2 separate regions of the Homo sapiens genome follow, and region 2 is linked to region 1. The links come from fine-mapping of genetic effects on gene expression. Tissue or cell type: whole blood. Region 1 holds a variant in brackets; the other region holds the start of a gene. All regions are shown on one strand. Distances are from middle to middle.

Region 1 (4,390 bases):
ATCATAACTGCATGCCAGCCAGTGGGAAGGGGGACAAAGGAGCAAAGGGAGCCCATGTCCTTTCCTTTTTAGGGCACAATTTGGAAATAGCACACTTTATTTCTACTCACATTCCATTGGCCAGAATTTCGTCACATGGCTATGCCTAGCTATACAGGAAACCGGGAAATGTAGTCACTGGCTGGGTGGCCATGGGCTTGACAAAACTCAGGCATTCTATTATAAAAGAAAAGGGAAGTGAATATCGGTGGCTGATCAGCAGCACCGGCCACACTGACCTCCAAGGGTAGTTGGAGGTTTAGGGAAGATTATATGAACCATATGAGTTAGTTATCTGTATTATCTGATTATTAGTATTTCTATTTATTCTGGAGTGCCATGTAGCTCTTGTATGAGTTGCAACGCTGTTCAGAAAATACAGCAAACTTTGTTGTAGGATATACTATTATACTCATCCTTGCGGGATGTGCTGTAGTTCAGAGACTGCCTCTGGACACTGAAGTTTGGCTCCAAGGTCACATTATGATGAACAAAGGCCAACCACTGCCCTAAACCAAACCTTCCTATCCCACAAAACCATCCTTTCAAAACATATTTTGTTTAATTGACAAACACTTAATATTGCTCTTACTATGTCTAGGCTCTACACTGAGGGATTTTCCAATATTAACCCATCTAATCCTTATAACAATCCTATAAGAGGGAATGGACTCTTACTACCTTCACTTTACATCTGAGGGCACTAAGGTACAGAAAGGTTAAGTAACCTCCCGAAGTTACCCAGATAGTTTGCAATGGGGCCAGGATTCGAACGAGACAGTGTGGCTCTGGAGATCACATCTCCACTCCTACGTTGTTCTGCCTGTGACAAAGTGGGCAGGAATAAAGGAAGATCTTGAGTGAGTGTTCTACATTCTTAGAATTTAACTCCAGCATTGCACTACCCTCTGCCCACCTGAAGACGCGGTGTTACGGGAAGCACCCTGAGTAAAGCAATTGTGAAATCCATGTTTTGTACCCACATAGTTGAGAAGAACCACAAGAAAATGACATTCTTCTCAGTCTTTAAAAGACAAAAAATGGGAAGTTGTTATGGATTTGTAATATAAGAGCATGACAGGCCTAGAGAGCCACATGGGATTGAGGAACAGCCAAAGGCAGGAATGAGAGTGCTGGAGAAGAGGCAGCTTGCAGAGCAGCAAGGATGAAGGAGGAGGAGGAAGATCTCTAGCTGCCTCTCCTTCCTGACAGCAAAGGGCAGGCAGAGACTTAGCTAAACAAGTTCATTCAAAGAATCATTTTCCACCAAGCAAGAGGACCTGTTGCCCTGTATCATCTTATATGCAGCTCCTGTTCCAGGATACGTGGACATAAACAGATTCAGTTCTGAGACACTGTGACATGAAGCAAAATTCTCCTTCTTGTGTCAGATGTGGAAAGCAATTGCTCCAGGCAACCTGAAAATGAAGATCTATTTACTTCTTTTTTTTTAACTGAGAAAATAAAGAGAAACGTTATTTTATTTCCTTGTTTGTCCTCTATATAAATTCTGAAACAAATAAATCATGTCTAGTGCCTACCTGCCTCATCAGTGGGAACTGAACTTGCATTGATTCCAGAAAGACCAAACAAAGGACAGTCTCAATCTGCAGTGACATGATCCCATTTGTGACATTTAATGCAGTTCATATTTCTAACCTGAATATCAAAGGGCTAATTTTTTTTGTTTATGTGATCTTTGGCATATTTTTCTCATGGAGCTTCTTTCTGCCATTTAAATTTGTCTTCATTCTCTCCTGTTTTCTTTTTTCTCTGTTTCCTTTTTTAGCTCCTGGTGGGGCCTCACAAATGAAATTAAGGCCATTCTTTACACATTCATCTCCCATAAGCAATCTATTTTCATATGATTATTGTTCTTTAAGATACTGCTGCCTTCATTCTTCTTGTTTCTTCTTATCATATATTTTCTGTTCTGCCATTCATACTTTTTTTTTTTTTGAGATAAAAGTCTCACTCTCTCGCCCAAGCTGGAGTGCAGTGGCGCCATCTCCGCTCACTGCAACCTCCGTTCTCGGGTTCAAGTGATTCTCCTGTCTAGCCTCCTCAGTAGCTGGGACCACAGACACACGGCTAATTTTTGTATTTTTATAAGAGAGGAGGTTTCGTCATGTTGGCCAGGCTGGTCTCGAACTCCTGGCCTCAAGTGATCCGCCGGCCTCAGCCTCCCAAACTGCTGGGATTACAGGCATGAGCCACCACACCCGGCCCATTCATACTTTTTTGATACTGGATTTGGAGGCAAGATGAACATCCTTCTTGCACATGACATTGTCAGAGGATTTCCCCATCCTTGAGCCAGAGCTGGGGAAAGCAGTGGCTAGCTCTGTAAGCAACATAAAC[G/A]AACTACTTAGCAAGCACTAGCTTAATTCTCTGAAACTTTGTACTGGGATTTTTCCCAATCCCATCCCACCCAATATTCTAAATGTCAATGAATAACAATCACCGTTGCCTTTCTCTTGTCTGGCTGGCCCCTGAGGTGTGAAACAACTTACTCGATGGGCAAATTATAGATGATACAATATTAGGATTTGTATCATCTTTCTCTTAATGCCCTTTTAAACTCTGCATCCTCAAAAGAAGCCAGAAGCCACGTGGCTCAGCTTGGGGGCCTGTAGTTTACCATGTTGTCTTCTCAGGAAGACCTTTCTTGACCACTTCTTTTAATCTTATAGCTTCCTCTGGCACTTCCTGTCATGCCTTCCCTGCTTTGTGTTTTCTCTGTGATCCTTCTCCCTTTTAACATACTATATAACCGATTTCATTTGTTTATTGGGTATTTCTCCTACTAGAATAGAAGTCCATGAGGATTGGTGGGTTTTGTTTCTGGTTTTGAATTTTCTGCTTATTCTTAGCACCTGCAACAGTTTTCTGGCACCCAGGATATTTGACTAAATGAATGAACAAGCAAGTGAATTAATAGATGAGGTAATACCGGGATAAACCATGTTACAAATAACCAGAGTAAGTGACAATTTGCCTTGAGGGATTTGAGGGAGAATTTGATCAGATGCCTGGCTCAAATACAGATACCCTCCCATTTCATTTTTAAATATATTTTCCTTTAGGACTTGAGTACTTTCCCATATTCTCAAAAAGAGTCCTCTTTTAAAAAATAGATATATTGCCGGGTGCAGTGGCTCATGCCTGTAATCCCAGCACTTTGGGAGGCTGAGGTGGGCAGATCACCTGAGGTCAGGAGTTCGAGACCAGCCTGATCAACATGGAGAAACCTCATCTCTACTAAAAGTACGAAATTAGCCAGGCATGGTGACATGCACCTGTAATCCCTGCTACTCGGGAGGCTGAGGCAGGAGAATCTCTTGAACCAGGGAGGTGGAGGTTTCAGTGAGCCAAGATCATGCCATTGCACTCCAGCCTGGGCAACAAGAGTGAAACTCTGTCTCAAAAAAAAAAAAATAGATATATTACCCCCATTATGAACCTTCTGACATGGTACACCAGGAAGGACTCAACATCGCTTCTGTGGCATTCCTATCAAAAATGCATACTCTGAATCTAATCATGAGGAAACATGAGACAAACTCCAACTGAGGAACAGTCTACAACTGGCCTTTTCAAAATATCAAGATCATGGAAGTTAAGGACTAAAGAACTGTTCCAGTTTAAAAAAGACTAAGGAGACATGCCAACTAAGTATGAAGAGTGTTCCTGGACTGGGTCTTGGAACAGACGGAAAAGACTTCAGAAACATTATGGAGACAATTTATGAAATTTAATATGGGCCATAAACTTAATATGAATAAGAATATTGTATCAATGTTAAATTTCCTTGTTTTGATCATTAGACTGCAGTTATGTAATCTCTTACATCAGAGATTTCTTTTGTGTCTTAGAAAATACACATTGAAGTATTTAGTGGTAAAGAGGCATGATGTCTGCAACTTACTCTCAAATGGGCCAGAAAAAAATATACATCATATATATCCATATACACATGTAAGTAAAGAGAGCAAGCACTTGACAAAATAAATAGAGCAAAATCTGGGTAAAGGGTAAACTGGAGTTACTTATACTATTTTTGTAACTTTCTGCAACTTAGTATTATATCAAAGTAAAAATTTACAAATAAGTATACGTATATTCCTAGGGTGAGTCATACATGAGCATCTCAGGTAATACCTTCATTACAAGTTATTCAGTAGCTGAGAGCAAGAACTGGACACTCTCACTTTTGTTACTTCTTCACCCCAACCTGAGGACCCCCACATGAAGATGAGGAAGAAGTGGAAGACATTAAATTCAAACTTCACCTACATCACCGTTTTGCCTTGGACCCAGTGACTTTTACAGAAACAAATTGAGACACAGA
Region 2 (4,371 bases), 73 kb after region 1:
TGGCTGGATATATATATATATATATATATATATATATATATATATATATATTCATCTCTATCTATCTTCCTCCTATTCTTTTTCCCATATCACACAAAACACAAACACAGACACATTCTGGGTTTACTTGGTACTGCCAGTCCTCAGGCTGACTAGAAGACTGAGGAAAATTTGAAAGACAAGAGATCTATCTACAGTCTTTCCTAACTTCCTAGTCCCTTTACCAGATTTTTCCATGAGGATTTGTCTTCCTTTTTTCCTTGAGGAAGCCAACTCTTGAGGGCTACAAAACACTTATTTCAGCATGTGTCTCTAAAAGATAAGAACATTTGATAAATATAACCACACTACCATTACCACATCAAAAAAAAAAAAACAGTTATTCTTTAAGAGCAAACATCGAGGCAGTGTTCCTAATGGTTTCATAATGTCAAATGTTTACTGGCTTTTTAAAACAAATTCAAAATACACATAAGTTCCACACCTTGTAATTGGTTATTATGTCTTTCAAGTCTCTTTAAATGTGTAGGTCTTCTCTCCATCTCTTTCTTTCCTTGAAACTTATTTATTAAAGAAACTCAGTTGTTTGTTCAGAAGCATTTCCCATGGCTGAATTTTGCATAATATATCTTCATGTTGCAGGTCAACATTCACAGGATTCTCAGATTCAGTTGGAGGCATGTTTGATTATCTACACTTTAAGTCATCAAGTAATTTGAATATATTAATATAAATCCCATAGGCTCTTTTTCCCACTCCAGATGATTCCTCCAATAACCTTTCATTCAGTAAGTTCCCCGTTGTAAATTTCCAGTTAAGTAATTCTCTTTAGGTTTGATGGGTGCGCACAACGAAGAAAAGGGGGGACAGGGAAACCTTTCTGAAATTCATTTCCTTTGAATATATCCATTAGAGGGCGACATTGCCTTTAATATTATATTTCCCCAATAAAGTTTTAAATTGCATAAAATTTACTTTTGTATTTTTGACAAGTTGGACCTCATTGCCTACTTTAATTTCTAATCTCACGTCTGTAAAGTGTGACTGCATTCTCCTTTGTTAGTTTGATCTCTGCTGACTTGCGTCTTTGGTATTACAGTACTTCCATCTTTGACTCTGTTCCCAATTCTAACCATCGGGCGGCGATGTTGCATAAATAAAGACCCGCGGAAAGGCAAAATTAAGCGAAACTGCCAAATAAAAAGCAGTTTCACCGGGGGTAAAGGCCATTAATTTAAGAAGGAAAGAGACAAACCAGACATTTCTAGTTCATATCCAACTCACGGCCCAAGGTCAGAACTGTGTAAAATGCAACACAAAGGAGCCATTCAGGAGTGGGGGAGGCTGACTTGGGGAGAGCGAATGCACAATCCCCGCCTTGAGCCTGCGGTTCCACTGGAGGGGGCACAGGTCCGTTTGCGCACGTGCGTGTGAGTAGCCACAGGGCAGCGGCGGGACATGCCTGCACCGGGCATGGGACTGCTGAACCAACAGCGCTCTGGCGGACCGTTTGGGACACCCGCCCGGAGGCAGGTTGGCACTGGCGCTGCCTGGAGGTCAGCCACTCATTGTACCCCGGAGGAACTGGGTCCCGCGGGGGCATACGGCTCGCCCACCGGCACGCGTTAGGAGGCGAACACCTGCATCCAGCTAGGTGTTCCGAGCTCAGCCCAGGGCGAGGGACTGCTCTGCCACCTTCTTCTCATTCTTCCTGTAAGAACACTGTCTATCTCGGACAAAAAGGACCCACCTGACAGCAAGTGGTATCGTCACACAGAGGTAACAGGGAAGTCACGGATCCTCTTGAGAATCTGACAAAAGTTGGTGCCCCTTCCCCATAGTGGCACTCAGAAAACTGCAGGTGAAACCACAAATGGGCGGAGGCACTCACAGGCTTCCTGGGGCCCGTCCATTGATCAGATACCAGGTTAAGAAATTCTGTCCTTATTGGAGCCTAGACGGCAGCGCAAAGGAACCAGACGGACTTGGAAAGAGAGGCAGGGACTCCCTCCTCCCTCCAAACACAGCCAGCGTTTCATCTCGGATTGCGGGAGGGGCCTGGCGGAAGGTGGAGGAGAGGTGGAGCGCCTGGATGGGGCCCTCCCCATTCTCCTGGCCCCAACCCCAGGACGCCTGGCTGCGGAGGGCTCGAAAGCGAGCAGCGAACGCCCAAAGCCTGGGTGGCGGGAAGGTGGCAGCGCCCTGTAGCTTTTCCTTTGCATTTTTCTTTAAATCGTGAGCTCCGGAGCTATCGTTTCGACCGCTGCTTTCCGGTCTCCACCTCCACCTCCCAGTTGGCTGGCTCGCCCTTCCCCCACCCCCCCATCCCCCCCATCCCCCCCCATCCCCACCCCCATCCCAGCCGCGTGCCCGACCCTCGGCCTCCAGCCCCGCCTCCTTCGCCGCGGGGTTTAACCCGAGGCAGAGTGAAATCTGCATAGTGACCGCCCCCTCGGAGATCATTGGTGCAGCCCCGCCCATCGCGGCCGGTGATTGGTAAGCCGCCCGGGGTTATTTGCATGTCGGACGCAGCCGGGTACCCAGCTGTGCTGCCGGCCGGCGCAGCGCAGAAGTTTGCAGAGCGCTTTCTCGCCGGCTGGTCCCGGACTCGCGCTGCGCCCTGCGCCCTGCGCCGCCGCCTCCTCCTTCTGCCGCCGCCGCCCTGTTCTCCCGGGATTCCTTCTCTGTGGAGGACTGACTCTCTGCTTGTGGGAATTAGAGGTGGACAAGGGGGAGTGCCGGGGGGTAGCGACGGGGTTCTTTCCAGTGGCAGCTGCGAGTCGGGACGCCGGGAGCGTGGGGCTCCTGCTGGCCACGGATCTCGGCCACCTTCCCGCGGCCTCCGGGCAGGCAATGCGGCCGCCGAGCCCCGCGACGCAGAGAGGAAGGAGGGTGGCCCGGAGGGCCTAGAGCTTGTTTCTGCCCACTTGGGAAAGAGGGCATGGAGTTGTGAGTGCCCCTCGCTCGGCGACGCCGCCCTCGGCAGGCTCCCCATGGCCGGGACGTACAGCTCGACTCTGAAGACGCTGGAGGACTTGACCTTGGACTCCGGGTATGGGGCCGGGGACTCGTGCCGCTCGCTCAGCCTCTCGTCCTCCAAGTCCAACTCGCAGGCGCTCAACTCTTCGGCGCAGCAGCACCGCGGGGCGGCCTGGTGGTGCTACTCCGGCTCCATGAACAGCCGCCACAACAGCTGGGACACGGTGAACACGGTGCTGCCCGAGGACCCCGAAGTGGCCGACCTCTTCTCGCGCTGTCCGCGGCTCCCCGAGCTGGAGGAGTTCCCCTGGACCGAAGGAGACGTGGCCCGGGTGCTCCGCAAAGGCGCTGGCGGCCGGCGGCTGCCCCAGTTCTCCGCCGAGGCGGTGAGGCGCCTGGCCGGGCTGCTCCGCAGGGCACTGATCCGCGTGGCCCGCGAGGCGCAGCGCCTGAGCGTGCTGCACGCCAAGTGCACCCGCTTTGAGGTGCAGAGCGCCGTGCGCCTGGTGCACAGCTGGGCGCTGGCCGAGAGCTGCGCGCTGGCAGCCGTCAAGGCGCTGTCCCTGTACAGCATGAGCGCCGGCGACGGGCTGCGCCGGGGCAAGTCCGCGCGCTGCGGCCTCACCTTCTCAGTGGGTCGCTTTTTCCGCTGGATGGTGGACACCCGAATCTCCGTGCGCATCCACGAGTACGCAGCCATCTCCCTCACCGCCTGCATGGAGAACCTGGTGGAGGAGATCCGGGCCAGGGTGATGGCCAGCCACAGCCCTGATGGCGGAGGGGCCGGAGGCGGGGAGGTGTCTGCTGAGGCCCTGGAGATGGTCATCAACAACGACGCCGAGCTCTGGGGCGTCTTGCAGCCCTATGAGCATCTCATCTGCGGCAAGAACGCCAATGGTAAGCGCGCGGGCCTCGGACTGGCAGACTGGGTAGGCAAGAAATCCCGCCCTGGGCTACTGGGGGAGTGAATTTCCTGAGACAAAGCTGGTGGCTGTGCCAGTTCTTTGGGAGAAAACGTTTGGTCTGAGGATAGGGTTCATTACATGGCACTTGCCAGAGATTGTTCTAAGGGTGTCTGACTTTTGGAGGGTAAACTTGTGAATGATCTCCATCCTGTTCTGCGTGGCATTGTTACTATCTGCGGGCTGTTCATTGATTGGGTGAGATTGAATCTCTTGACCAAGCCATTCCTGAACCTCTCTTGAAATGAAACTTACTGCCCCGTGGCTCTTTACCGTGATTGACTAGGTCTCTAGCTGCTGTCTTTCCCCAACAGCTGGTTAGATTGACTGATTCTGCCCCCTAGTTTTCCCCAGCTCAATAGCAGCAACCAAAGGGTCCCAACTTAAAGACCTGAACCTTGGATAAGTAAGATGGGCGGAGGGAAGTGGG

Evidence for each region.
Region 2: it holds the start of ABTB2, and the variant in region 1 is fine-mapped to the expression of ABTB2 in whole blood (INTERVAL, PIP 0.98).

Annotation. Positions count from the first base shown.
Region 1 is chr11:34,428,838-34,433,227 of GRCh38, reverse strand. It overlaps LOC105376622 (a long non-coding RNA gene), which reads right to left and starts at 939. Exons shown (of 3, transcript XR_931180.3): 1 at 781-939; 2 at 111-216. It also overlaps the pseudogene CIR1P3. The variant G/A (reference allele first, on the strand shown) is at 2,401.
Region 2 is chr11:34,356,206-34,360,576 of GRCh38, reverse strand. It overlaps ABTB2 (ankyrin repeat and BTB domain containing 2), which reads left to right and starts at 2,567. Exons shown (of 17, transcript NM_145804.3): 1 at 2,567-3,876. The coding sequence starts at 2,994. RefSeq lists a silencer at 2,382-2,581 and an enhancer at 3,532-3,641.